Linked DNA regions of Homo sapiens. The protein of the gene in region 2 purifies or fractionates together with the protein of the main gene of each other region. This does not show direct contact. Each region holds a gene or a part of one and is shown on either strand. Other genes may lie near its edges.

Region 1 (7,767 bases), on a different chromosome or scaffold from region 2:
TATCAACCGGGTCAAAGGAACACAGGCAACTGAGCAAACGACAGTTTTGAGATGAACATCATATATTACAGGCAATATATGGCTTTCTTACTAAGGATTGAATATAGCAAATAAAATACTTGGTGTCAACTCTACTCGAAGAGAGTCACAAAGATAACTACTATCAGTTTCTAGAAATAAAGTAATTAAAATTGTCTATCCCTCAATGTTTAGCCTAGAATAAAAATTTATAGTGATAATCCATCTCTGGCTAATATCAATACATCAGACCTATTAAAGATGTCAACTGCAATTCAAACACATGGAAGAAAAGCAACCACACTAGAGCAACTAGAATTTTTTGAGCACTTACTAAATGCCAGGCATTATGCTAAGCATTTCACAGATGTTATTTTATTTAATCCTCACAAGAATCCTGTGTGATAATTTATAGACAAAGAATGTGAGGCTTAGGAAATTCAAAAAGCCAATGTTACACAAAGTACAAATTGTACTAGACTATATTTGTATGTTCCAGAAGTTTATACTGCATAATTTCACTTAACTAAAGTCCCAGATTTGAAGGCATTTCTGAGTAAATACACATAGCAGACCTGAGATGGGGCCTTTAGGACTTAAAGTAATTAAAATACTACTAGCCTAAAGCTTTAGCTGATTGGGAACAAATAGATTAATACTATTCTCTGAAAAGCTATTTACTTCAGTCTAGAGTCTCATGCAAATAAATAGGAAGAGCAAGGAGCTTGGACCATTCCCAGGCAACTACTGCTGTCCCCTAAATGTTTGTCAAACAGTAGACAGGAACTCATGATTTTTTTTTTTTTTTTTTTTTTTTTGAGACGGAGTCTTGCTCTGTTGTCTAGGCTGGAGTGTAGTGGCGCCATCTTGGCTCACTGAAACCTTTGCCTCCTGGGTTCAAGCGATTCTCCTGCCTCAGCCTCCCGAGTAGCTGGGATTACAGGCTCCCACCACCACGCCCAGCTAGTTTTTTGTATTTTTACTAGAGACAGGGTTTCACCATGTTGGCCAGGCTGGTCTTGAACTCCTGACCTCAGCTGATCTCTCTGCCTCGGCCTCCCAAAGTGCTAGGATTACACGTGTGAACCACCAGGCCCAGCCCCATGAGTAGATCTTGATTAGCATTTTTTAAAAAGTAAAAACAATAGAAAAAGCATGACTCATATGCTGCAAAGTTAGGCATTGTTTTGTGAAACTTTTCTTTCGTATGTATGTGTAGAGATATAAAAATACATCTTAGGTTGAAATATAAATTTTGGGGGTTTTTTTGCTTTTTTTTTTTTGAAACAGAGTCTCGCACTGTCACCCAGGCTGGAGTACTGGAATATGAAAAATCACCACAGTGCCTCATACACATTAAGCATCAAATTAATAATTAGTATTATTTCTGTAACTGTGAGCCTGAAATACTATATCTTTGATAAAGCCAGTTTAACCTACTATAATGCAAACAACAAAAAAACCAAAAAAACCTTAAAGCCACACTGCTGACAAAACTTAAGAGTAGGTCCTTTGATTACTCGGGAAATCATATGGTCCTTGAGTCTTTTAACTAAGAAAATAAGTTTGTGCTGATTCACTTGCTCATTTGGCCTTCCTTTGTGAGTAGTTGTATTTTCATTCACACGTTGGCTGACAAAACTTAGAGACGTAATGAGTAACCACGAAATAGTGTATGATAGTGAATAAATCATGAGCTTTAATATTTAGCTCTACCACTTACTGATTGTGCAAGATACAAAACCTCTGTTTTCTCATCTGTAAAATGAGGTCAATATCAGTACCTTCCTCACTTGGCTTTTGGAAGGAATAAACAAGATCTAGTAGCACAGTCCCAGCATACAGCATTTTTTTTTTTTCTGTAAGACAGAGTCTTGCTCTGTCGCCCAGGCTGGAGTGCAGTGGCGCGATCTCGGCTCATCGCAAGCTCCGCCTCCCGGGTTCACGCCATTCTCCTGCCTCAGCCTGTAGTCAGCTGGGACTACAGGCGCCCGCCACCGCGCCTGGCTAATTTTTTTTGTATTTTTAGTACAGACGGGGTTTCACGGTGGTCTCGATCTCCTGACCTCGTGATCCACCTGCCTCGGCCTCCCAAAGTGCTGGGATTACAGGCGTGAGCCGCCGCGCCCGGCCGCATACAGCATCTTAAATGATGAGTGCCTACCAAACACAGCTAAGGCTTCCTGGTTACTGTGCTGTGCATTGCGGTGTTAAGAGCACACGATGGGGGCTGGGTTCATATTCCAGTCCGGTCACTTTGGTAATGTAGCACTGAGCAAATTTAAGTCTCAGTCTTTTTATCAATAAAATAATAATAGGATTACCCCTTAGAGTTGGTGGGAAATTAACATAACTAATAATCGATGTAAAGCCTTAGTACGGTGCTTGAGGTATAAGTGGTCAATATCAGCCATAACTTCATTGTTTATGTTTTCAATAAGTGCTGCTGCTCTAATTTTACACCCATAAACTGCCTTTACTAATCTTCCTTCTTTTATGCCCAAATGGAATACACAAAAGAAATGCACAAGTTCAGACTACAAGTAATACTCCAGTGTTCTTATCAGTGAGGCCCTCTCGGACTTGAAAATCAAGTAGCTACCAACGTCTCGGGTCCATTCCCTTCGCCCTGCTGTAGTTTCTCCATTACCGCTGTTTATTGACAGTATTCCCCGCCTGAATGTAAGCCCCACGGGGCGGAGACTGTTTCACTGCGGTATCCTTAGCATCCTGATTAGTGCTTGGCATGTAACAGATGCTTAGAGCATATTTGAGAAAAATCAATCAACTGAATGAGCCCCAGCCCGACCCTAAAATCGCCTCCTGCTTGCCTCCCAAGAAGGGAGCTGAAAGAGGCAAAGGGCGTTAGGGCGTCTCCCGTCCCCCAGCTCTTTCCCCCTTACGCACCAGAAGGGTCATTGAATCGTTTCAAGGGCGCCTTAGGAAAGGACATGTTGACGGCCAGCTCCAGAAACTGAAGGTGACTGGCACTCCTCGACAACTGAATGCGGATTATCACTCCCTACCGGTTTCAAATTCAAATCTCCCCACATTCCCCACCCACCCCGGCGTTAGCCAATTGGAAAGCCAAACCCCTGGGCACACCAATCCCGCACAGGAACACGAAGAAAGAATGCTGGGTTCTGATTGCGTCCAATTAGCTGGCCTGCGAGTTTAGGCTGCCATCCAATAGGAGACCGTTACTGTTCCCCGCCCCACCCACCCAGTCATTCCCGGAGTTACTCAAGTGTAACCTAGCATTTGCGCAAGCGCACTTCCCTCCGGAGACGTTAGAAAGTGCATTTTGGCGTCACTTAGGGGACGGTGTAGTGAGTTCCGGCTTCACTGGTTCCAATTCTGTCCCATTGTTCGTTGCATGTGAACTTTTCTGGATTTCAGTTCTTTCATCCGGGGCCTGCCGGTGCCGTAAACGGCCATTCAAAGGGAAAAACGAACACGCACACCAAAGCGCTAGCTTGCGTTCCTGCGCATGCGCAGTGACCCGAGCGGAGAGGCCGAGGCGTAGCCTAAGCGTGGGATTCCGCGCGTGCGCTCGGCTCCGCCTGGTGCGGCCGCGGCCGGGAGGGACTGGATTATGTCGGCCCCGTTTGAGGAGCGGAGTGGGGTGGTACCGTGCGGGACCCCGTGGGGCCAGTGGTACCAGACCTTGGAGGAGGTGTTCATTGAAGTTCAGGTGCCGCCAGGCACGCGCGCCCAGGATATCCAGTGCGGCCTCCAGAGCCGGCATGTGGCGCTGTCGGTGGGCGGCCGCGAGATCCTCAAGGTAGCGGCAGCTCGGGGCTTGTGTTCAGTTTCCTCTTCCCAGACGCCCCCAGCCCCGTTTCCCTGAACGACTGTTGGGTGTCCCGACGGCTCCTGTGGCTGGCAGAAAGAGAAAGAGGATAACACTGACCAGGTTTGGGTCTGGTCAGAGCCCCCGCCTCTTCAGGGCAGGTGCTGAGTTGTGGAAATTTGAGGAGCCTATTTTCGTGTTTAGTTTTCAAACTAAGACTGCTGCTTCTGCTTCTCTGACGGGCTTCAGCTGGGAACAGATTAACTAGGTTGCTAAAGGAACAAATATTTCTTCCGTGCACTGAAGACAGGCAGGAAGACAACAGATAACGTACCTGCAGTGGAGAGGTTAAGCTCCTGTACGGAAGCGTAATTCATAAATAGATAAATATAGGAAAGGACAACAAAGAAAATAGGGATAGAATAACGGGCAGAGAATTTAGAGATGATGTCAGGTGATTAGTTTTCTCATCTAAAAGCTTGAAAATCCTGCATGTTTGTGGAGTGGTCAAGCAGGTGGTGAAGAGGTGTGTGCATAAAATAAGTAGTACTCCTTTTATTTCTTTTCACCAATGCTCTTTGGATCTGGACCCGCTTTTTCTTTGTTAAGTGTATAATTAAACTAACAGGTTGAAATTAGATTTAGTTCTCAGGTTAGATGCCCAAGATGTTTGATGGCAGTGTAATATGGTGAAGGGAGACTACTTGTTTCCTAGTTTTGTAAACTTGGGCGAGAGATTGTTCAGTGTCTCTATATCTTCCTTATCCACAAGATAAGGTAGTTATAGTACCCTTCTCATGGGATTGTTTTGAGCTTAACATGGTATTCACGTGTATGAAGAGCTTGGAGTATTCACTGGTATGTAATAAGTTCATACTATATGTTAGCTATTAGCTATTATATATATTACAGTATATGGAGGTGCTTTGAGTGCCTCAAGATTCGTGTGAAAGACATTATGTCAGCTTGGATCTCAGTTACTTTTCTGAATTGTACAATTCATAGTTTCCTCAACAATGGTTTTAGATTACGATTATAAATTAGTAAATCCAGTAACTTTCGGAATTTAGCAGTAGCTGCTGAATTTGGGATTTCTGATGTACGTATAGACCAGTGGGATTTTTTTCTCACTAATTTTGACATATTTTAAAATGTGGGCTTTTCCTAGTGACATTTAATTTCACTTTCTATAACTTAAATTTGGCAACAAATTAAAATGGATTTGAGTTTAGGCATTCTCTCTTTAAAAAAAAATATATATTTATTGAGACAGGGTCCCTGTCTCCCATGCTGGGGTGCAGGGGTGAGATTGTAGCTCACAGCAGCCTCAAACCCATGGGGTCAAGCAATCCACGTTGGCCTCCAAAGTCCTGGGATTACAGGCCTGAGCTACTGGGCCTGGTGCAGTCTCTTTTAAATTTATATTTTGTTTATTTTTTTAAAAAACATGAGTTTGTGAACAGTTAGTCACAACTAATCTATCAAATCTGGAATACGTAAAGTTTTTTTAATGCCGATTGCCCAACAAAAAGATTAAAACGTTTTTAAAAGTTTACTTTAAAAACAACATTTTGCCGGGTGCGGTAGCTCATGCCTGTAATCCTGGCACTTTGGAAGGCCTAGGCGGGCGGATCACAAGGTCAGGAGTTCGAGACCAGCCTGGCTAACACGGGGAAACCCCATCTCTACTAAAAATACAAAAATTAGCCGGGCGTGGTGGCGGGCGCCTGTAGTCCTAGCTACTTGGGAGGTTGAGGCAGGAGAATCGCTTGAACCCTGGAGGTGGAGGTTGCAGTGAGCCAGATCGTGCCACTGCAGCCTGGGCGACAGAGCGAAACTCTGTCTCAAAAAAAAAAAAAAAAAAAAAAAAAAAGACAACATTTTTTAGTTTTAGCAGGAGATCCCTTCTTGTGGTTAATTTAAATTGGTAGAATTAAAGCATTTCAGATATTAATTTCACATTTGGCCAGTGGTCAGTATTACTGTATCTTCTAAAAATTAAGGAGCCCTGATCTTTCTTTAGAGAGCTCTGTGTTCTTTGCCATAGTAAATATCCCTTGCAGTGTAAACTAGTTTCCATTTTACCTGCTGGGAGAAAATTTAGGGTTGTGCACCTATAAATGTCATGGTGAAGTGGTGGTATAAGATGTGGATTAGGTAGGAAAGTAGGTAAATCTTAATCATGAAAACTTTATAAAAATTAAATTCTGTATTTTTAGCACCTTATATGTTTATTTTTCAGGGCAAACTCTTTGATTCTACAATAGCTGATGAGGGAACATGGACTTTGGGTAAGGGTAATTACTATAATTCATCAAATTAAAATAATTTTGTCTTGATATCTTTTCCTCTTTTGTATTAGGTCTTTTTTGTCTTTGCAGCTTTGAAAGATAAAGCAATAGAAATGTGTTGAAAACCGTTGTATGTCAAAGTTACCTAGTGGGGGGAGAAAAAATTAGTTAGTTGTTTTTGGAAATATAAAATTTAATGAAGAACTTCTTGAGACCACCCTGGCCAACATGGCAAAACCCCGTTTATACTAAAAATACAAAAGTTAGCCGGGCATGGTGGCGCATGCCTGTATTCCCAGCTAGTCGGGAGGCTGAGGCAGGAGAATCACTTGAACCCGGGGGGCGGAGGTTTCAGTGAGCCGAGATCAAGCCGCTGCACTCCAGCCTGGGTGAGAGTGATACTGTCTCAAAAAAAAAAAAAACAACTTGATGAAGAACTCTAATTTATTTGTGCGTGTGTGTGTGTGTGTTTTTTTTTTAGAGGACAGAAAAATGGTTCGTATTGTTCTTACAAAGACAAAGAGAGATGCAGCAAATTGTTGGACTTCTCTACTAGAATCTGAATATGCAGCGGATCCTTGGGTGCAAGACCAAATGCAGAGAAAGCTTACATTAGAGAGATTCCAAAAAGAAGTAAGTCAGATGAAGTGTATGAGTATGTGTAATTAAATATATAAAAATCATCAAATAAATATTTGAAATTAAAACTCAAATGTCATTATGAAAAGTTACAAACATTTTCTAGAAGAATTTTTAAAGTGAATTGTTAGAAAAATGGCCTTTCTTGTATGGATTTGATTTTTCGGAAGATTTTCTTGAGAGGAATTTATTTGTATTGCTGTGATTTGTGAGTTTAAGCTTACTTTTATGTACATCAGTAATGCATGAATAAACTCTTACTATAGTTGAATCAATATAGACTTACCTAGTGTAAAAAGTGAAAGGCCCCTTCACCACCATTCTCCCCATTCCATGCATCTATCTCATTTTCATCTCATATGTTGGCTATTGCTTGTTTTGTTTTGTTTTTTAGCATAAATGGAGGATCACACTGTGTGTATTGTTCTTCTTGTTGCTTTTTTATTTAATAATATGCTGTGGGTCTCTTTCCCTACTAATACATAGGTATAAAACTCATTCTTTTTAACTGCTTCAGAGGATTCTGTAGTTTGGATGTGTCATCATTATTTGGCTGTTTGCCTTTGATATGATTTAGATTTCTTCATTTTTCTCTATTTTAAAGAAAGCTGTGCTTTCATCTCTGTGAAACTACTCAAGTGTTCTAAGATATCTTTAAGATAAATATCTAGGAGAGGAATTGCTAGATTGCAGCACTTGATAATGTACGTCTTTATGATAATGATTTCCAGATGTATATCTCTAGCCTAGACTTTTTTTCTGAATTTAGGACCTGCATACCCGGTTGCCTATTCAACATCTCCACCTGGCTATCTAATGTATATTAAGCTCAACATGTCCAAGTTGAACACCCTAACATCCTTCCATATTTGTTTTTACCTGTAGCCTTTTCATCTCAGTTGATGAAAACTAGTAGTTCAGGTCAAAAAAAATTGGGACTCATCTTTGATTCTTACATCTTTCTCATACCCTATCCAATGTATTAGGAAATCTTACTGATGCTACCTTCGAAATATATTTAGAATT
Region 2 (7,410 bases):
ATATCCCTTAATGGCAGAATGTGGTAATCATGGAATTAATTATTGCTGAAGTAGTTTTCAAATGAAAAAGAGAAAAAAATAAATGAAACCTGACACAATCTGACCAAACGTGGCAATTTACAATTTCAAGGTTATTTTACAAAATGCCTACATTTACACAATAGGCTCCTGGCAGCATTTTCAGACAAATGTTCTTTTAATTTATCCTGACATGCTATAAGTGAATAAATTACACGATTTAAAGAATTAAAAGGAAAATGAGTTTTCCTTTATCTTGCATCAGAGAAAAAGAAAAGAACGTGCAAAAAGATTGAGAGGAAGAGCACGCACACACAGATAATTCAGAGAAGCAGACGGGGGTTAGGGAGGGTCAATGATCACAGAACCTCACAGTGTGCTCTCCAAGGGTAAAAGTCAACTGCTTATAGCCATTTCACAAGTATTTTAAACAACAATGTTTTGTAGTCAAACCCTTCAATGCTTGCATTCTTATTTGAAATCAGCCCAGCTATTAGTCAGTGGAAGAAGTAACAATACCAAGTTTTGGCAGGTGCAGTACTAGATATTTTACCACAAGTCATTAGAAAAAGAAAAATGAAAGAATACATTTCCCCTTCATACAAAACGATTATTTTAGAATAAAAACATTGAAAAAAGTTATATAATGAAATAAAATTTACTTGCAAGGGAATATCATGTAACAAATGGCTCGAAGTTGACTATCAAAAAATTGGGGAGATTTTTATTTCCTAGTGAATCAGCAAGGCATTTTTTGGTTGTTGTTTAAAAAAGTATTATTTCCTTATAGAAACAGTTTTCAGATTTTAGTGAACTTGTAAAACATAAAAGCTCCCATTTCAAAATATGAACAAAATCCCAGATCATATGGGTGTTTACGGTGATTACATTTATCTAAGCCATGTACATACATGTTCAGTTGTAAGATGTTAACTAAATTTCTGTGACAAATATGGTTGTTGTTGTTTTTAAAATACCGAGAACATGATATAGTTAATGTGGAATTCTAAAGATAATCTGGTAGTTACTAAGATTTTCTTATGTCTTCACAGGTAAGCAGGCGGAATCTTTCCTATTCTCAAAACTGGAATTTTTGGTTACTACTAGATCAGCTGGCTTACAGACAAGAAGCCAACCATTTTAAGAATGCTCTTTATGTGAACAATTTGCAAACCCCAGGGATGGAGAAACCCTAAAAATGCTCAATCATAAGCATTTACAACCTTTGCAGCTGTGGCTGAATACTGTCCTTCTGAAATGATATCTCAAAGCAGTCTAGTTCAAAATAAAAGGTTTTAACAAAAAATTGGCATATGGACAATGTCTCCACCAATTCGTGTGTGTCAACCATTTAGTTAACTTTTCTACTTGAATAAATGCAATAGAAAACCAGACACCACGTTTCACTACCTCAGTTAATATTCACAATTACAGAGGCTACACTTTGGGATACAGCATCACCAACGCTCCCCAGAGTCAGTTTATATTGAAATAAAGTTTTTTACACCAACTAAATGGTTGTTCACAGCCACTAGCTGGTGTACATATGAACTACAATTTCTAGATGTGGGGAGAAACAAATGCTGCTCGAATCATCTGCTCTGCTTCTTCTGTTCCTCATTCACGCTTAGTTATCTTTCACATTATTCTTGTTTTTTTCAGTTTGCTTGCCTGTCTGGGTTTGGGCCTGCTGACCCTGCCCACTGGAAGAGGCTGCCTGCTGTGCTGCTTTCTGCTTTAACATCGTCCAATCAAATGTGTAGTCATATTGGTGGTTCAGGGTCCTGAAAAGAATGCGGAATAGCTGCCTCAGATACATGTAATCTGGGACTTCCTCAAAGCGCAGCCCACGACAGTAGTTCAAGTACATGGCGAATTCTGCAGGAAACCCCTTACATAAAACTTCAACAGGGGTGGACATCTTCTTCTCACTAATCTTTTCATATTTTTGTTTTTTTGTCATAGCCCTTAGTCCTTGCCACGGCAGGCTGGTTCTATTAAAATACATGAAAACGTAGCCTAAGGATTCCATGTCATCTCGGCGGCTCTGCTCAATACCAAGATGTGCATTGATGCTGGCATATCGGACAGTGCCAATGAGGTGTTTATCTTCTCTGTACGGTATGTGTTGCCTGGTCCTGTTGTCTCTGTACTTTTTGGCCAAACCAAAATCAATAAGGAACAACTTATTACAGTGACGCCCAGTACCCATCAGGAAGTTATCTGGTTTAATGTCTCGGTGTAGAAAATTCTTTGTATGCACGTATTCAATTCTGCTGATCATCTGGTCGGCTAACATAAGTACAGTTTTCATGGTGAACCTTCTTGAACAGAAATTAAAGAGGTCTTCGAGGCTGGGTCCCAGAAGGTCCATGACTAGCACATTGTTGTCTTTTTCCTGACCATACCAGTGCATGTGGGGGATGCCAACCCCACCTTGAAGAATCGTGTAGAGTTTGCTCTCATACAGCAACTGGGGGTGCTTGACCTTCTGAGATTCCAGCTTCACTGCTACGTCCTCGCCGTTGGTGGTGGTGATGCCCAGATAAACGTCTCCAAAGGAGCCAGACCCGATCTTCCGCACCAGTTTGTATTTCCCTCCCACAACGAGTTCGGCTTTGGAGCCGCTGTTGTTTGTCATCCTGAGAGGCAAAGATGGAGGCTGGGCTCAGCCCTGACCCCTCTAGGGGAGGATGGAGGCCTCCGGGGCCCACCGGCCCGCAAGGCTGAGGATGAGGGCTGCTGGAAATGGCCACCGAGGCGTTTCCCGGTGTTACAGGGCGTGGAGTCAGCCTGATCCCTGCAGCACACCAGGATTTCCGCCAGGCCACAGTTTGCGAGGGTTTCTCAAGGTTCCAGGCTGGGCCACCACCTCTTTCTCGGTGGCGGTCGCTGCCTCGCTGTCGTGGCGATGTCGTGGGCTGAGAAAGGGGGCACAGCGAGTTGGGGCAGCAGTACTGCTGCCACCGCTACCAACGGCTGTGGGCCAGAGGGCCCGGTCACGCCGCCGGCGCCGCCATTTTGTTCCTCCACCTCAGCCAACCACAAATCGAGAATTTTTGGAGAAGCTGTTATTGTCTGAGACCTCTGTTAGGTGTTCCACTCATCTCACTCCATTTAAGACAAACTTGCTAGTCTTGTAAGGTAGCTATTATTTTCCCTGATTTGTTGGGTAAGAAAGGCTGAGTCTCAGGTAAGCGGCCTAAGGTTGCAAGAGATTGTGGGCGAGCTGGAATTCAAAACTGCCTAGGCTTAACTCGAAGCTCACCTTCTTTCAACTTAATCGTGCAGAAATGGGAGGCTTTTATAACAAAGATTTTCTTGTTTTCGGGCCCAGTCATTGTCCCATCTACTTCCTTAGCCATCATGTCTCCCTGGGTTAATGCGAGTCGGGGTGCCACCTCTTGAGGTTTTTCTGTGTGATCTCAGTGGTTGCTTCTTTAATGAGTTTAGTCAACAAGAGTTACTTACTGCTAGTTAAATTGAAATGTCTTTTTTTTTTTTTTTAAAGCGATCCTTTTGAAATTTTTTCATAGAGTGCTTTGAATTTAAATAGGATTCCACAGAGACGTTCTGGCAAAACTGACTAAATGAAGGATTCAAGTAAAATTTAACCAAAATATGGAGAAGAAACAGAAGCCGGCAGTTCTGAGCATTTTCTCAGAAGAACTGGGGCCAGCACTAGCAGAAAAAGCGGTACCATTTCAATATTTTTATGAAAGTTCACATCACAAATAACAAAACCCGTGCGATTATTTTGTTTTATGAGGAGATGGGATAGGAACTGAGTATAATCCTAACGGGGCAGTAGCAACGAATTTGGGGGCCAATGGCAGAAAGGCAGGAGAGAGAGGTGCAGCTTTGAAAGCAGGTATTCTCACTTTACTGTCTCACATAAGTTAGTGCTGTTAACTTTTCTGACCTGCATCAATCTATGGCGAGAGAAGGAGCTGGTTTGAGACATAGACGGGCATAGAACATTATAAAGTGCTTTAAAACATTTTTAAAGTCCACTTCAGACAAATATGTGAGGTGGGTAGCGCAGTATATTACTTGGCTTTGCAGCAGGAACAACTCGCAAATCTCAGTGGCTTACAATGACAAAGTTTATTTATCATTCAGGTTTTATGTAAGCTGTAGATCAGCTGCATCTCTGCTTCCTGTGTCCTCTTTGTTCTAGAATGCAGGCTGAAAGAGCAGCCTCCTTAGGAGCATGCTGTTCTCATAATAAAAGGAGTGGCAAATGTTACATTCCACTGGGCAAAACACATCACATGGCCAGGTCCAAAGACAGTGGGGTGAAAATACATACTCCTACCTCAGGTGGATAGTAATACAGTATACTGCTGGCATATTTTATTATTATGATTGTACTTCTCATTTTATACAAGTGGAAATCAAGGCATAGAGAGGTTAGATGAATTGCCCAAGACCACACTACAGACAAGTGTCAGAGGCCAATTTGAAACTGAATTCTGACCCAAGGTAGTTACTTTTTATACCGTACCAACTAGAATGGCATTTCTTTCATTTACTCATCCAACTTTGTTGAAATTTGCCTGGAGAACAATTTCCTTTCTAATAACCAAGAATAAAATTTATGTTGTTAACCCACTGCCCATTATGCTTCCTTCCCGTTCAGTCTTCCAGTCAATGGCTTCAACACGAACCTTGAAATTCAAATAATCTCTATGTGAGAGAAGTCACTATTCAAAAAAGTTACAGATAACCCATACATGGACAAAAGCTTGAATCAAAAAATCCCCTTTCAATTCTGGAACTAGAATAGTTTAATTATAGTTTATTTATTGTTTACTAAGTCCCATACTTTTTTGTACCAGTTAAATAAAGGCACTGTCTATAAAGAAGGTCAAGTGTAACTTATAATGGTGGTTGGGTGAACCTTCACTTACAGGGAAGTTGTGAGCATCTCCAGAATGGGGAGGATCAGTAACTGAAGTGATGATATGACCCTGAATAGCTTCCAATCCAGTCTCCCATGAATTCTCTTACCACAAGCCGGTGGGACTGCGGATTTTTCCCCGAACACATACTCCCTGCATTTTTTCATCTTTGGGTCTTGGCTTATGGTGTTGTTTCCTCAGCCTGAAATGCTTCCAGCCTGCTTTATCTTTCCCATCGCCCAGGTCTAATCCTAATAATCTCAGGGCTCTTCCTTAAATGCTGTTTGCTCCATGAAACCTTTTCCAATCTCCTCAACCAAATATAAATACTCTTTTTAAACCCAAACAACACTTTGCTTAAACTCTTGCATCCCCTCCTACCCTTTTGTCCAAAATTTTTCCATAAAAGATGTGCAACAAATAGTTTTTAAAATGGAAGTAAATTGAACTACTGTATTTCATAAAGTTTTGTGGACAGTGTGTGGGGTTGATGCATTCTTTATTTATTCATTCATTCAACAAATAGTTATTGAATGCCTCCTATTTGCAGGCATGAGTGACTCACCAAAGGTGGCATAGGTAGGTAATGATGGATTCAGAATGGAAATCCAGGATAGCCTGCCTCCAAAGCCAGTACTTTTAACCCCTACATAGACATCAACAGCCAGAGGCTCCTGAACGCTGGGTGGCTTCACTGTTGGGAATATATTAGTTCTGTTTCTTTTCTTTAATTGTATAAAGTATTTTACCAATGCATTTTAAAGCTATGATTTAGCCTTGATTTCAAAATTGCCTCTAAAATAATTTCTATTAATATAAGATGACCCCAGTAAAAGTAAAATAACGTATTCTGGGCAGGATTGTACTGGGTAGTATTGTACTGTTTAACAGCCAATTCGGGTTTTGTCAGTCCTGAACTTTATACAATTTTTTTTGTGGCCCTCTTTAAGAAAACAACAACAACAACAACAACAAGAACAACAACAAACAGGCATGAAATATTTAACTTAGGAAAAGAAATCATTGCAATTTACCTGAGTGTTAGAGGGTCAAGTCTTTTTTTTTATCCCCTAAGCTATCTTGATGCAATTGACCAGAAATTCTTACATAGAAATGCTTCCACATTGCAATCTGACTTCTCCTCCCCACCTGAAATACTTCACAACTCCTGTCCACTCCTAACACTTAGAAGGGACCTTGCAAAGGAGGCTTTATTCACTTCCCTGTAAGTCCGTGTCTGCTTTTGGCAATTAAGAAATGATACTCAAATGGCATTGGTTTTAGTCTCATATGAATTTTGGGGTTAATTTTCTGGGCTTCTTGGTATCTTTTCCCAGGAAATGGAGACACTTTAGTAGAATGGTCATTTGAGACACAAAAATTTCTTAGTTAAAAAAAAAAATTTTTGGCTATCAAATTGGGTCGGCAGTTGTCATTACAGAAACCATTTGGCATGAATATAATCTCCTTTTGGAACTATTTAAATAGAATACAAAATAAATCAAAATATGTTCTTAAATAAATAATGCTGTCACTAAGGGATTTACTGACATTTATGTGGCTCAAACACTATGTTCAGAATAACATTACCCAGAATCAATCACTTCAATTTTAAAAGATCCTGGAGATGACTAACTTTATAGAAGGATTTAAGTCATTTTTTCCTCAAAGCTTTTTGGAAGTATTGGCACTGCAAAGACAGTGAGACACTATTGGAAATGAGGTTATTTGGTGTAGTATCAAAAATCACAGCAGAGGGCGTCATTGTAATGTGCTGGATTTTTCTTTCTTCATGAAAGAATATTTTCTCCATGGCTCTGCATCTTTCTGTTCACTCATTTTGAAACTTGCAATATGTTTATCTGAAAAAAAGAAAACACTTAAATACCAATTTTACTATATTGAGAATGTAGGGTTCAATTTCAGCCTTAAAAATCATTACTTATTTTGTTTGGTTCCCATGAAGTTATTGCAATTCTGGCACCTTTCTGGACTTCCTTCCAGAGCAGTGAGGAGTTGTGTAACCTCTTTTACTTTTTCTTGCAGGTTGTCACCTTATTAAGACCATTCAAATTGTTGGCAGATCATTATGTGAACACATTCATTAATTATGTTACTTTATTCAAAGATCAGAAAAATTACATGAAAACAGTTCATGACATCACACTTATTGCATCTTCCAGTTCCTTTCAGTGAATTTTGCTTAAGTTCTAACAGCTATCTACTCTAATACAAAGAAAAAGCTGTAAGTTGTAATTATGTCAGATGTTCAAAATGAATGAGACTAAGTATAAATGATTCATTAATTTAGGTTGTTTTAATTATTTTATGGATTCATCTTGTGATTAGTTTGACTGTGATTAGGGTGAACAATGGATTGGAAAATAAAAGGATTGGCTGAACTACAGTTTAGTGCATCCTGAATGTGCATACACAGGCTTGCACTTAATCCCAGTGAAGTTCCTTTTTGACAATTTTGTCTAAGAGA
Region 3 (7,502 bases), on a different chromosome or scaffold from region 2:
AGTCTGTTGATTCTTTAGATTTTCTGTCTGCTTATTTACACCCAAGGTTTTATATATATAGTTATTTGATTCAGTATGGCCATTTGTAGTTTGGTTTAAGGCTACTGAGTGGTTTTCAGGAACCTGCAAGGTGTGCATTTTTGGTGCCTCTGACTGCAATGGGAGCTTGGGGATTGATTCTGGCAAGGGTTTGTCTGTCAAATGCTGTACATTCGTAGGGGTGTCTGGGACCTCTTTAGGTGTCTCACTTCCCTGAGAACCAATGATAGTTGAATTTGAGGAGCCAGTTGTACAACTGTTAACTTCCTTTTGCTCAGGTAAAGTGGGTTTAAATACTAAAGAGGAACGAAGCCGAGAATGAGTATAAAGGGCATTGGCCTTCAAATTCTCAGGATTATCATAGCCCTCAAATCGGTCACCTAAAGCTGATCCATTTGAGTCCGGTGTAGCTTCTGAATGATCATTTAAGTAGGATTCAATTCTCCAGTTACGTAGGAATGACTTTGTGGTATGTTCAAGGGTTGGCATTCGTTGTTGCAAAAAGCGGATATGGTTATCTGTCCCATTAAAAGACCTCCGAACATTTGAATTCCTGTCTGCAAGATTTGTTGTTTTTCTCTGCGCAAGCCGATTGGCAAAACTCTGGGCAGGTGTGTTGTGGTGGCTTACATAGCCTTCCCGTGATGAGGACGCCACACTGAGACTATCAGATGGCTTTTTCCAATTACCAGGTGGATTATTGGTTCTATTCAGAGCCCTATTAAGCAGGAGGTATGGCACTGTTTCTGGCTGTTCCCCAGCATAACTATGCCTTTTCCAATTTTCATTTATCTGATTGGGTTGAAACTGACGTATTGCGTTTGGACCATTAAAGTTAGGAACAAAATGAGGTTTGTATCCGTGACTTCTTATGTTATATTTGTCATGTTCATTTAAAGTATATATCCCTCTGTTTTTGAAGTAACTGGAATCTAGTTTATGAATCTTGTCTTGTCTACCAAAAAGGTTTCTCTGGCTGGAAACAGATGCTAATGAAGACACCGAATGCTGGTAAGTGCCATTTTCCCAGAGGGCTTTTCCATGCTTCACCCTTGCTGATTCTTCCTGAGCAAATGAACTAGGGACACAGGATCTGGCATAGAGAGTTCTAAATTCTTCATCAAAGGACTCAACAAGTTGTCCTGTAATTATCTGAACCATGCTGAGGTGAGCTTTCTCAAATGACCACATATAACTGGGGAAAAAAATGGAAAAATTTTAATCATTTAAAAGATTGATAATAACATATAGTTCTACTAAAAAAAGTATCACTTAATGACTATGTTTTTGTACTTTTCTTTGGCTATCATTATTTAGAATATTTTCCGTCATTACATGCACTACATGTTTTCCCATCCTCATGTTCCTATTTTAAATAACAACGCAACTCAAATTTTGGCTTTGAATCCACTACTTTCCAGAAGTCCAAAGAAAAACTTGCTGTGCATTTTCAAAAGCAATCTGCAGATTCAATGCAATTCCCATCAAAATACCATCATCATTTTTCACATAATAAGAAGAAACAATCCCAAAATTTATATGGAACCAAAAAAGAGCCTGCATAGCCAAAGCAAAACCAAGCAAAAAGAACAAATCTAGAGGCATTAAATTACCTGACTTCAAATTATACTACAAGGCTACGGTTACCAAAACAGCATCCTACTGGTATAAGAATAGGCACATACACCAATGGAACAGAATAGAGAACCCAGAAATAAAGCCAAATACCTACAGCCAACTGATCTTCAACAAAGCAAACAAAAATATAAAGTGGGGAAAGGACACCCTATTCAACAAATGATACTGGAATAATTGGCAAGCCACATGTAGAAGAATGAAACTGGATCCTCACTTCTCACCTTAAGCAAAAATCGACTCAAGATGGATCAAAAACTTAAATCTAAGACCTGAAACCATAACAATTCTAGATGATAACATAATAAAAACTCTTCTAGACATTGGCTTATGCAAAGAATTCATGACCAAGAACCCCAAAACAAATGCAACAAAAACAGAGAAAAATAGATGGAACCTAGTTAAACAAAAAAGCTTCTACACAGCAAAATAATCAGCAGAGTAAACAGACAGCCCACAGAGTGGGAGAAACTATTTGCAAACTATGCATCCAACAAAGGAATAATATCCAGAATCCACAAGGAACTCAAATCAGCAAGAAAAAAACAAATAATCCCATCAAAATGGGCAAAAGACATGAATAGACAATTCTCAATAGAAAATATACAAATGACCAACAAAAATACAAAAGAAAATGCTCAACATCACTAATTATCTGGGAAATGCAAATTAAGCCCACAATGAGGTACCACTTTACTCCAGCAAGTATGGCCATAATTAAAAAATCAAAAACTAATAGACATTGGCATGCATGTGGTGAAAAGAGAACATTTTTACACTCCTGGTGGAAATGTATACTAGTAAAACCACTATGGAAAACAGTAGGAAGATTCCTTGAAGAACTAAAAGTAGAACTGCCATTCAATCCAGCAATCCCACTATTGGGTATCTACCCAGAGGAAAAGAAGTTATTATATGAAAAACACTTGCACATGCCTATTTATAGCAGCACAATTTGCAATAGCAAAAATATGAAACCAGCCTAAATGCTCATCAACCAACAAGTGGATAAAGAAATGTGGTATGTATATACCATGGAATACTACTCAACCATAAAAAGGAACAAAATAATGGCATTTGCAACAACCTGGATGGAACTGGAGACCATTATTCTAAGTGAAGTAACTCAGGAATGGAAAACAAAATATTGTATATTCTCACTTATCAGTGAGAGTTAAAGATATGAAGATGCAAAGTCTGAAGAATGATATAATGACTAGAGAAGGAGGGTAGGAGAGGGGTGAGGGGTAACAGACTACACCTTGGGTATATTGTACACTGCTTGGGTGATGGGTGCACCAAAATTTCAGAAATCATCACTAAAGAACTTATCCATGCAACCAAAAACCAACTGTTCCCCAAACACTAATGACATAAATAAAATAGAATGTTAAAAAAAATAAAGAAAAATTTGCTGTGTATTTTACATCTGTGTCAAAACTTCGTGGCATAAAAACTGATATTATATTTTATATATACCATCTTGGCAGAATGCAGTAAAGCCAGTGTTGGAGAAAAAGTCAAGAGGCCTGGTTTCTGCTGAATTGTAGACACATGAGCTTGGGCTTCACTTTCCTCGTGTCCAATGTAAGGATACGGACAGCATAATAGCTACAATGTCTCATAGCTGTAACATGATATAATGTAAGATACAGCTGTGTTAATGCATGTATTTTAAGAGTCGGTAAATTTTCAGACTGTTATCTCTGTGGTTTACTCAATAAGTGTAATTTAGGATGCCAAGAGCTGTAAACAGGATTTGTGGCCAGCTGCCTCAATCATTAAAGGGCAGAATTCACTGTACTCACTGTACATAGTATTAGTAAATGCAGGCTTCAGAAACCATGCCAGTCAAAATGCCAATCAGGATCTTTTAATATAAAATACAATTTTTAGGAAATTAATGTCTGTATGACTTTATAGTACTTTATGGAAGCTCCAATTCCTTTCCTAGAGTTTAGAGGTAACAGCTACCTTTAAAATTCATATCAAATTTTAAATCTGATTTTTGAAAATCTAGTGATTTAATATACAGTCAACTGAACTGAAAAATAAATGAATTGCTATTATGCTATGCATAAAGTAATGTATATGACACAATGGGGGTTAATACAAAAGAAAAAAGAGACACTCTCCACATTGAAGCATCTTATTATTTCTATAAAGGAGACAATAAAAATGCAGGAAAATAATTAAAAGAATGTGCAGATTAAACATTTAAAATAAACAAAATATTACATATCACAAACAGGAGCATGTAACTTAAGAATCTTGTTATTTGGATATGCTTAATTTTATCTAGTATGCCTATAGGAAGCATGATACAGAAGGAATATTTATTATGCCACTGGGCTGACTTAAAAGAAATGGTATAAAAGTAAGTAACTAAAGAAATTTTCAATCTGACTAAAGGTATGAATTCAAAATATTAGAAACATCAAGTAATGGAATGAACAGTGAACTATCAAGTATGAGGAAATCCATGAAGAAAGTGAAGTTCTGCAATATTTTGATAAAGACTAGATTCCCAGTTCAGACACAAAAGATGTGGGAAGACAATTTGTGTGGAGGGAGAAATATGGAAAAGGGAAGAATGCAATAAGGGTCATGTTCTAGTTGAACACAGAAAACATACTATATATAGCTGGAGCAAAGAAGCCATATAAAAGACTGATGAACTAGTGGGGAAAATCTTGAAAACAAAACAGAAAGTTCGATTATGTAGAATTTGTTTCCAAATTTGGATAAATTATAATAGAAAGAGATGTTTGAGGAACTATTTTTTTCTAGTAGCTATTTGTAGTACTATTGTAGTACAGACTTAAAAGTAAGAGCCCAACCAAAGTAGAAATAGGAATAATGAGTGAAAATGTTGAGCCAGTAGTAAAAAGAAAGAACCAAAAGACTTCATGTCAAAAGAACATCCATACGTTATTAAATAAAAACAACTTCCAAGTGTTGAGGTTAGAAAACTAAGAAGATACGGTGTTGGTGAATGTGTGGCAATTGGAAAAGTTTCCCTGCTATAGTAAATCAGAAAATAATATTGTAATAAAGTTTCAGGCAACAGGAAGACATTCATTGAATATATTCAGTAAGTAAATCTGAAAACCTACAGACATGCTTCAGGGCTTGGAAATGATCTCTGTATTCCTCTATTATCGTAGGTGATTTCTATGCCATTAACTATGAAGTCCGAAGTCCGTATTGCCAGTGCTGACCTCTTCCTCATCTCTGGAATCTGTGTCCAATCTCTACCCAAAATTTTAGTGGGCCTTGCAAGCCTCACATGTATGACTCATAAGTTGTCATCTAGCACTCCTCCTTCCCCGACCTATTCCTTCCCTAGTATTGCTTAAGTGAGTGACTCAGCCATCTTTCAGGTGATCAAGACAGGAAACAAGCAGTCATCTTTGAATGCCCTCTTTTTCAGAACCAAAAGGTCCTGTTGACTCTGCTTGCAAAACTTCTCACAAATCAGTCCTATCCCACTATCACCCTAGTCTTAGCATTTTCGGCTAATTTGACTCTTAGTGTTCTCATTTGCTCATTTTTCAATCAACAGAACAGCAGAAGTGATCTTTGCATAAAACAAATTGGGTCATGTCACACTTCCACACAGAACTTTCTGTTTTGTTTAAAAGAAAATTCAGGCTCCTTACCTGGCCTAAGATAATTCCTACCCTGCCTGCTTTCCAGTTTTACTATGGATAGCTCTTCCCTTGCTTAATGTGGTCCTACCACACTGGCCTTTCTGCTATCCCCCAGATATCTGCCCCAGGATCTTTTATCTATTGTTCCCTCTTCAATATATCTCTTCCCCTGCTGACATGCTCTTAGAAGACATTTATGATCACTCTATTCAAAGTATCCATCTGATCATGCTTTATCATATTCCCCTGATTTCATTTATACAATACCCCATTACCACTATCAGATGGTTTCTTGTATGTTCTCCCTTTGTCTGTCTCCAGTGCCCACTAAAATAAAATTTAGCTCAGCAATCTTGTGTACCTTATTTAGGACTGCACTTCCAGGGGCTAAGAACGGTGCTTGGCATATTGTAAACACTTAAAAACATTAGTTGTAAATAAACAAATGATAATATAAATGAACTATTAGTTTCAAAATCAAGACTAAAAGGCAAAGATGTTTATGTTGGTGGAAAACTTAAAAGGTTTACATTAAATCTGGATTATCATGCAGGTTTATTTCTTTTTCTTTCCTACACAATACTAAAAAGATAGCAAAGGGAAAAGGGAAGTAGCAAGTGAAAGTATTTAATAAATGTTTAGAACAGAGAAATCTGATGGAGAAGTGGTGGCTGACTTATAGGAAGTTTGCATGAGGTGAGCAGCAATGAGAATAAGCCAGATGGGCCCAGCAGAATCTTTATGAATTCAACATCGGATCAAAAGGTACTACAAATGGTGGGTTAGAAAGGTCATGAAAATAGAGAAACAGGAAGATTGATTGAAAGTCTCATATAGAGCAGTTGGGCCTCCAGGTTCCCTACTCTTTCCTTTCCCATGAAGCACTCCTTCCTATCCCTTTCAGGAATCTAAGGTTTACTTCAGCAGAAACCAATCCAGAGAAAGTCTGAACTCAGAAACTTTAAACAAACCATGACTGGGATAAAGGTGAGCTAAAAATGAGACTTATCAGACCCTCAGCTCTCTTTCCCATTCTGCTTCTAGAATATCTTCAGTTAGGATCATATTCTGACTGCATTCCAAATTCCATCTCCTTTGACAATCTTTTGGAGAAAGACATTATTCTCTGGAAACATTGAAAAACCCCAGATAAGTGATATTTATATTGATAGTCGGGGATTCTCCTGTAAAGTTGCCAGGTCCCCAGTCTATCATTCAGCTGTAAACTCAAACGTTGATAAGCATTTCCCGCTCAGTTTCTAATCAGCTTTACAGTCCCTCATTCTTAAATATAAACACATAACAAAGATTAACAGATGAATAAACAAAGTTTCAAAGACAGCTTATAAAGCTTAAGAGCTTAGATGCAATCATAGATCAAAACAAGCTGGAAAATGGCACCTAGAAGAAACAGACACAAACTACAAATAAAAATACTTCCGAAAACACAAACACAAGGTCAGTAAAGTGGCAGATTAGAAAGTTACAAGCCCTACGTACCCCATAGAGACACTAGTTAACAACAATATGTGAAACAGAAGACCTCTGTGAAATGCTAGCGACCAATTGAAAAGATAGAGCACCCAGAACATTATATTCCAGCCATACAGGTTGAAAAACCTGTGATGTTTGGCCAGCTCATTCCTATTCCTCCCCCATATGGTACAGCATGAAACAAACAGAGAGAAACTTTTCCCCCAGCCCCCAGACTGGGGGTCCTCCCTCAGGATGGAAACAAAAGAGTAGACTGTGGATCATAATTCTGGCTTGTCTTCAGTGCAGCCCAAGAGACTGGCTTCTATCTTACCTGAGTGCTGGTAGGATTGGAACCAGAGTTTAGAAATCATTGAAAATAGAGGTAAGCAGCATGTTAAACCTGCAGTTCCATGGGCAGACACCAAAGGAACGAGAGGTCAGAAAAGATTTGAAAGGTCCTAGAATCTGTGGCTGGGCTGAATGGTAAAGGTCTTTCCCTGAACAAAGACAGTATACAAAGACTGGGAGAGGTGACTGATTATTTTTAAGATGTCTGAATACTAGCAAAAAATTACAAGGCATATGAGGAAGCAGGGAAACTCAGCCCAATCCTAAGAAATAAAATAAAACTCCAGAAACTAACCCTAAAGAATCACAGATCTATAAGCTGCCTGATTAAATATTTAAAATAACTGCTAT
Region 4 (7,502 bases), on a different chromosome or scaffold from region 2:
GCTCCTTGCTACTGTTTGAGTGGCAACATCAGTGGCCTTCCTGCCCTCAAGCTTGTCCTTGTGGCTGCTGAAGTAGTCTTCCTCACTAACAGTGGAGGACCCACAGTCATGGGGCTGTGCTGCCATTTTCACAAAACACCATGGCTCAAAACATTTTAGAGCTGATTAGTGGCCATGTGCCCTTGCCTGTACGGTGTCCCTTCCCCGCCTCCCTCCTCTGCTAGCAGAACTCACACCCACCTGTACCCCAGAAAGCTTTCATTATCATACTCTCTCCAACCACAATAGGGGCAGGCATGTGGTCCACACTGGCCAGAGTATCCTATTCCCTTGGATGCAGGGATTCATTCAGGGTGGGCATGTGATCCCACCAGAGCCAAGTAAGTTTTCAGAGATTTCTTTTTTCTTTATCAAATGGATTCTGACAGAAGGGATTGATAGTAATTCTGAGTGAAAGAGTTTCACCCTTTGGGAGACAGCTACTAAAGGCCATATAAGAAAGCCAGGATCTGGCTGGGCACGGTGGCTCATGCCTATCATCCCAGCACTTTGGGAGGCCAAGGTGGCCGGATCACAAGGTCAGGAGATTGAGACCATCCCGGCTAACATAGTGAAACCCCATCTCTACTAAAAATACAAAAAAAAGTTAGCTGGGCGTGGTGGCGGGCGCCTGTAGTCCCAGCTACTCGGGAGGCTGAGGCAGGAGAATGACGTAAACGCAGGAGGCGGAACTTGGCAGTGAGCCGAGATCGTCCACTGCATTCCGGCCTGGGCAAGACTCTTTGTCTCAAAAACAAAAAATAAACAAAGCCAGGATCGTTGACTTCAAAGGGAGAGCCTGCCTAAGAACAAAAGTCAACTCGAAAACATCAGAACCAGGATATAGTGTTCTGATCAGCGTGTGGCTCCTACGTCAAGATGAACTGAAAACCAACTGTACCTTTCTATGCTTCCTTCCGGGTTCTTCGAGTCAGTACGTTTGAGAGTTAGCTGACACTTGCCATCACCCCACTAATGGTGGTATTTGTACCAGAAGTAGGTTTCAAACAGAGATCATAGAACACAGTCAACTCTGTCTCCTGTAACCAAGATATGGCTAATGCAAAGTCCCCCTGAAAACTGCCTTCAAAGCCTGAGAAGGAAGATTCTTTTGAAAGCCTTCAATGAGGCTGGGCCGGGCGCAGTGGCTCACACCTGTAACCCCAGCACTTTGGTAGGCCGAGGCCAGCGGATCACCTGAGGTCAGGAGTCTGAGACCATCCTGGCCAACGTGGCGAAACACCATCTCTACTAAAAATACAAAAATTAGCCAGTCATGGTGGCATGCCTGTAGTCCCAGCTACTCGGGAGGCTGAGGCACAGGAATCGCTTGAATCTGAGAGGCAGAAGTTGAAATGAGCTAAGATGGCGCCACTGCACTCCAGCCTGAGCAACAGAGCAAGACTCCATCACGAAAAAAAAAAAAAAGAAAGCCTTCAATGAGATAATGTAAATAAAGCACCTATCCAACACCAAGATTATAAAACCTCCTCAACAAATGGAAGCTATCATCGTCATCAATTTCATTTGGAGAGGGTAGTTTTTATATTTTAGAACAGCAAAAGTCCATTTGTAGCTAAGTTTGGTTAATATAGATAAATCCTACTTAGGTTAAAAACAAATTTTTTTAATAAACTTCTTACAAAAGGAAATTCCAAGAAAAAGAGTTCAATTTGTTTTTTCCCACAGCCTCTTTGGTGAAGAAAGTTCAAATTTTGTTCTGAGCAATGAGGGTACTGTTGAAAAAGAAAGGTGTCAAGATTTTCTTGATCTTACTGCCTCATTTTCCACAAGCCTTCACATTTCTACCTTTACCCAGGGCTGACACGTAATTATCACTCAGGGTTGTGTGTTTCTTCAAAAATGGGGTTTTCTTTTTAAAATTCTACAGACACACCTCATGCAAACCATCAGACAATCTACCGCAGAGGCGGCAGAACATACAACCATTGGAGCCACATATGTACAAATGGCACAAATTCTAGAGATTCATGTAAACCGCTCATTATCCCCACCCTCTCTTCAACCTTCCTGCTCTCTACCTTAAGATGCCATTGCCAATGTGACACTTCAAAGGTGGGTCAGAAACATAATCAGTATTTTCTAGACTAAAGCTCTAAATTACAAGGCTTGAAGCAACGTGGAGGATTTGAGTCTAAAGCTGACAGCTCTGGCTCTGCCTTCAACACTAATGGAGATGCCTGCAACTGCCCCTACCTTCAAGTGAGCAGGGCAAGCTGGGTCCAGATCCCTAAGGAACCAGGATTCCAGACTGTGTGTTGCTGTTAACCCCCAGTTCGTCCCCTGCAGACCTGGGCCAAGGCTTGAAATCTAGGACTTGCTGACTGTGTTGTCTCAATACAAGTTCAACTTCTGCATTTTAATCTATGGACTACAGGACAGGGGAAGTGACCCCCACCCAAACTGCCTCTAACAGGAGGCTTTGATAACCAGCTGCTATACACAGATGCACGCATATCAGAATGCATGGCCATACAGGCTCCCATTGAGAGGAAAAGGCTTTTACCTTTACATGACATGCTTCTTCTGAAGAGTTTAGATTAATAAGCCTTGGACGGGTTAGAGACTTACCTGTAGGAGCCTGTTGCCACGCGGATGCCATCAATCAACGTGAACTTTTCGTGAACCTTCCCAATAATCTTAGTTCCTGACCTTGCATAGTAGATATTTCCTGTGATAGTCCGAACTGTCATTAACTGTTGGCAGGGAGTGGGAGAAATATAAATGAACAATTCAGCAATACTCATCTGCTGAGCAAATGGTTAGGACAAAAAGCCTTAGTTTACAATTCCCAGATATAATTATTGGCATATGCGTGGCTTAGGGTCACCATTTAGTGACAGTATACATGGTACACTAGCCAGACAGTTCTCAAGCCTCAAGTGATGTTACTTCTACATTTGGTCCATCTTCTCATCTGTTCTTTTCTTATATTTACTTTTGAGACCCTTAGTTCATGCGTGTATGTGTTCTAAAAGAACACTCAACCTTTTTGGGATACTAAACAACAGAATCCAAGAAATGATTCTGAAGCAAAATGTGTGGGATAAAATCATCAAAGAAAACATGCTAGTAATAAAGAACATTTTAGCAAAGTCTGAAAGAAGGTAAGCTGATCTTCCTCCAACTTGTTTGTTTAATGGCATCACATTAGAGTAACAGTCCATCCTCACTCACCCTCAACACCATAATGGGTATGGAGAATAGGAACACAGGACAGGCCTTCTCTAGTACAGGCCTGCTGAGGCAGAAACACTCATATCACATGTGGCTTAACAAGCAATGTCACATCTCCTACAAATACATAATTACCAAAAACGTACACTGGTAGTGGTATGCTGGGGCAATATACTGCACATGTATGCATAATTATTCCTGTAAAATGACACACATAAATGTATAAACAATGGCATACAAAATACTACAACAATCTGCATTCTCTGGAGCAGACCAGTGGCTCTATATCGTTAGAAATCTTACACATTTAAATTAAACGTGTAAGATTTTTGTTTGACTCATTGATTCCATAAACATAGAGAGCCCCTACTATGTGCCAAGCCGTGAGACAACAGAGATGTAAGGCATGCTCCTTACCTTCAAGGACTAGAATAAGAGAGAGAAAACTAATTGATTTAGAAACTACAGTAACACATAACAGCATCCAGAGAAATGAAAACCTATATCCACACAAAACCTCTACACATGTTCACAGCAACTTTATTCATAACAGACAAAAACTGGAAATATCCAAATGTCCTTCAGTGGCTGAATGGTATAAGATACCATACAATACTCAGCAATGAAAAGGAACAAACTGTTGATACGTGCACATCTTGGATGGATTTCAAAAGCACTGTGATGAGAGAAAAAAAGCAAATCTTGAAAGGTCACATACTGTATAATTCCATTTACAAAATAGACTGTAAACGACAAAATTATAGAAATAGAGAACAAATTAGTGGTTGCTAGGGGTTAAAGTGAGGGGAGTGATGTGACTATATAAAGGAGCAGGAGGAGGGAGATCTTTGTGGTGATGGAAACTTCTGTCTGGATATGCATGCATGACGATAACATGGCACAAAGCTGTATACAATGTCAATTTCCAGGTTTTGACATTGTACCATAAGTTACATAAGATGTAACATTTGGGGAAACTGGGTGAAGGGTACATGAAACTTTTCTGTACAATCTTTGCAACTTCTGTTAATCTATCAATATTCAAAATAAGCTAAAAATAAAACACAAAACTATGGCAAGACATAATGCTACTTCTGTGGTCTTCTTACCAAATGCGTAATCTGAATTTAACTTTGATAAAACATCAGACAAACCCAAATTCTACAAAAAATTGTTTTTTTTTTTTTTTTTTTTTTTGAGGTGGAGTCTCACTCTGGAGTGCAGTAGCACAATCTCGGCTCACTGCAACCTCCATCTCCCAGGTTCAAGCAATTCTCCTGCCTCAGCCTCCCGAGTAGCTAAGACTACAGGCACCTGCCATCATGCCTGGTTAATTGTTTTGTATTTTTAGTAGAGACGGGGTTTCGCCATATTGGCCAAGCTGGTCTCAAACTCCTGACCTCAGGTGATCTGCCCACCTCAACCTCCCAAAGTGCTGGGATTACAGGCGTGAGCCACTGCACCCAGCTAGCTAGTATTCTTTAAAGGTGTCAAGATCCAGCCGGGCGCAGTGCCAAATGTCTGTCGTTCCAGCTACTTGGGAGGCTGGTTGATGCAAGAGGATCAATTGAGTCCAGGAGTTCAAGACCAGCCTAGGCAACATAGCGAGACCTTATCTCTTAAAAAAAAAAACGGGGGGTGGGGTGGTGGGGGGGGGGTGGGGGCAGGTCAAGACCCTAAAAGACAAAGAAAGATGGAGAAACTGTTCCAGATTAAATCACATGAAGGAGACTTGACAACTAAATGTAAGGTGTGATCCTGGACTGGATTGGATCCTGGACCATAAAAAAGGGCATTAGTGGAACGACCGGGAAATGTATAAGTCTGTAAATTAGATAGTATTGATATCAAGTTTATTTCCTGATTTTGTTATTTGTACTGAGGTTTGTAAGATGTTAACATGTGGAGAACTTGGGTGAAGAGTATTCAGGAATTTCTTATATTATTTTTGTAACTTCTTTATAAATCTTAAATTATTTCAAAATAAAAATTAAAAAAAGAAAAACGACTAGGGAATGTCATAGAGGTACACCTGGACTTGGTGGGAGGAGAGCTTCCTGGAGGAGGTGATGACCCCTGAGCCAAGTCTTAAAGGATCAACATATAATAAGCATAAGAATACCATTATGGGCAGATTAGGTGTGGTTTTCTGTATCTTTCCCTTTGACACACATCTGAATGTTGCATATGCCTCTGTGATCGTGGCCAAAGCACTTGTGAGCGCCTGCACATCAATGTGTGACCAAGTTCCTACAGACAGCACAACCCAACATTCTGAACCAGCTACAGAGGCAGAGCATGGGGACATCAGCCCCCATACAGCAAGGGGCACAAATTCACTAGCACAGAGAGGAACAGGAGACACAAGCAACCAGGGAAGACAGTGCTTCCCCAGGAAGGAGGTAAAACTACAAAAACTGGGGAGGCCAGAGAAATAGGCCTTTTTTTTTTTTTTTGAGACAGAGTCTCTCTCTGTTGCCCAGGCTGGAGTGCAGTGGCGCGATCTCGGCTCACTGCAACCTCTGCCTCCCGGGTTCAAGCGATTCTCCTTCCTCAGCCTCCCAAGTAGCTGGGACTACAGGCGTGTGCCACCAGGCCTGGCTAATTTTTTATATTTTTAGTAGAGACGCGGTTTCACCGTGTTAGCCAGGGTGGTCTCGATCTCCTGACCTCGTGATCCACCCGCCTCGGCCTCCCAAAGTGCTGGGATTACAGGCGTAAGCCACCGCGCCCGGCCAGAAATAGGCCTTCTTAAACCCCCCTGCAGAGGATCTGGACACCTATGAAGGCAACAACCAACAGTAGGCAACTGAACCGGTGCCTGCTCATAGATTTCTGTCTAGTAGATAAATAGAGAAAATCACTTGACCAAAGTTGTGGCCAGAACAATTCTGTGATTTCTCTGCTAATGCATAGCCTTAATTATAGAAAGAGTACCTTGAAATTAAACACTGATACCTTCCATTTCTTTACCTGGCTAGCTGATAATGCTCTTTTCCATGCCAAAGTGTATCTTCCTTGGGTCCACCTGGACTCATTTTCTAACCACCTGTTGGGTTACATGGCTGTCTCATCTCAATTGGTCTAGAAACCCCAATCCTGTCTTTATCATGAGGCAACCAACAAGAACTCTGTGGGAGAATCTGAATTCTGTAAACCAAATTGCTTGGTAATAATAAGGTGGTAAGTTAGAGTCTCTTAGGCAGTAACTTATAGTACCAAAGACTAAATTCGTTTTGCTGACTGCTTTATATCTAGTACCCAGTGCATAATAGATACTCATACAGGTGATGAACAAATAAAGTTCTGAAGCTCACAGGTTAAGATGCTTAATTTTTACACTTGATCTTAGCCAAAAGGCTGAGAAGCCATGGGTTGCTTAATTTTTAAAAAACAAATTCTGGGCCGGATATGGTGGCTTATGCCTGTAATCCCAGCAATTTGGGAGGCCGAGGCGGGTGGATCAGTTGAGGTCAGGAGTTTGAGACCAGCCTGACCAACATGGTGAAACCCTGTCTCTATTAAAAATACAAAAAATTAGTCGGGTGTGGTGGTGGGCACCTGTAATCCCAGCTACTCAGGAGGCTGAGGCAGAAGAATCGCTTGAACCCGGGAGGCAGAAGTTGCAGTGAGCTGAGATCGTGCCACTGCACTCCAGCCTGGGCAACAAGAGCAAAATTCCATCTCAAAAAAACACAACAACAACAAAAAAACAAATTCTGTAATAAATATGACAATTTTTCTTTCTTCTTTCCATGAAAGTGACCAAGCTAGCTATGTTGTATAGGCTTCCACTGAAACACTTAGGTCATTTTCAGAATCAGAGAAATAGACATAAAATCTAATTTTACAATAATGAGAAATGAACAGCAGCAGCATGTAATAGTGATTACAGACACTGGGGTTGGAGGCAGACATACAAGGAGGCAGACCCTAGGCCCACTACTTTGAAGTGGTGGACACTTGGATTCTCTGTGTCACTATTTCCTGGTCTAAAACACAGGTGCCACTTACCTGATAGGGGCTGCTTTGAGGATTCAGTTACATAACATTTGTTAAAAGCACAGAGCAGGCTGGGCATGGGGCCTCATGCCTGTAATCCCAGCACTTTGGGAGGCCGAGGCAGGCAGATCATCTGAGGTAGGAGTTCAAGACCAGCCTGGACAACATGGCAAAACCCCATCTGTACTAAAAATACAAAAATTAGCCAGGTGTGGTGGTACGCACCTGTAATCCCAGCTAACTGGGAGGCTGAGGCAGGATAA

The links.
Region 1: the proteins of CSNK1A1L (region 2) and HMMR purify together in Homo sapiens (affinity purification with mass spectrometry; 2 studies listed by BioGRID and IntAct, with this or other methods). This does not show direct contact.
Region 3: the proteins of CSNK1A1L (region 2) and FAM83B purify together in Homo sapiens (co-immunoprecipitation; 2 studies listed by BioGRID and IntAct, with this or other methods). This does not show direct contact.
Region 4: the proteins of CSNK1A1L (region 2) and FAM83D purify together in Homo sapiens (affinity purification with mass spectrometry; 3 studies listed by BioGRID and IntAct, with this or other methods). This does not show direct contact.

The regions. Positions count from the first base shown.
Region 1 is NC_000005.10:163,455,897-163,463,663, reverse strand, and holds the start of HMMR (hyaluronan mediated motility receptor), read right to left. Parts: upstream 3,033-7,767; 5' UTR 2,972-3,032; coding exon 2,926-2,971; intron 1-2,925. Other genes in the region: NUDCD2 (nudC domain-containing protein 2), read left to right, coding at 3,614-3,802, 6,054-6,102, 6,584-6,735. UniProt on the Homo sapiens protein: Receptor for hyaluronic acid (HA). Involved in cell motility. When hyaluronan binds to HMMR, the phosphorylation of a number of proteins, including PTK2/FAK1 occurs.
Region 2 is NC_000013.11:37,102,598-37,110,007, forward strand, and holds CSNK1A1L (casein kinase I), read right to left. Parts: upstream 3,068-7,410; 5' UTR 2,660-3,067; coding exon 1,646-2,659; 3' UTR 662-1,645; downstream 1-661. UniProt on the Homo sapiens protein: Casein kinases are operationally defined by their preferential utilization of acidic proteins such as caseins as substrates. It can phosphorylate a large number of proteins. Participates in Wnt signaling.
Region 3 is NC_000006.12:54,933,438-54,940,939, reverse strand, and holds part of FAM83B (protein FAM83B), read right to left. Parts: intron 1,235-7,502; coding exon 1-1,234. UniProt on the Homo sapiens protein: Probable proto-oncogene that functions in the epidermal growth factor receptor/EGFR signaling pathway. Activates both the EGFR itself and downstream RAS/MAPK and PI3K/AKT/TOR signaling cascades.
Region 4 is NC_000020.11:38,943,130-38,950,631, reverse strand, and holds part of FAM83D (protein FAM83D), read right to left. Parts: intron 2,757-7,502; coding exon 2,632-2,756; intron 1-2,631.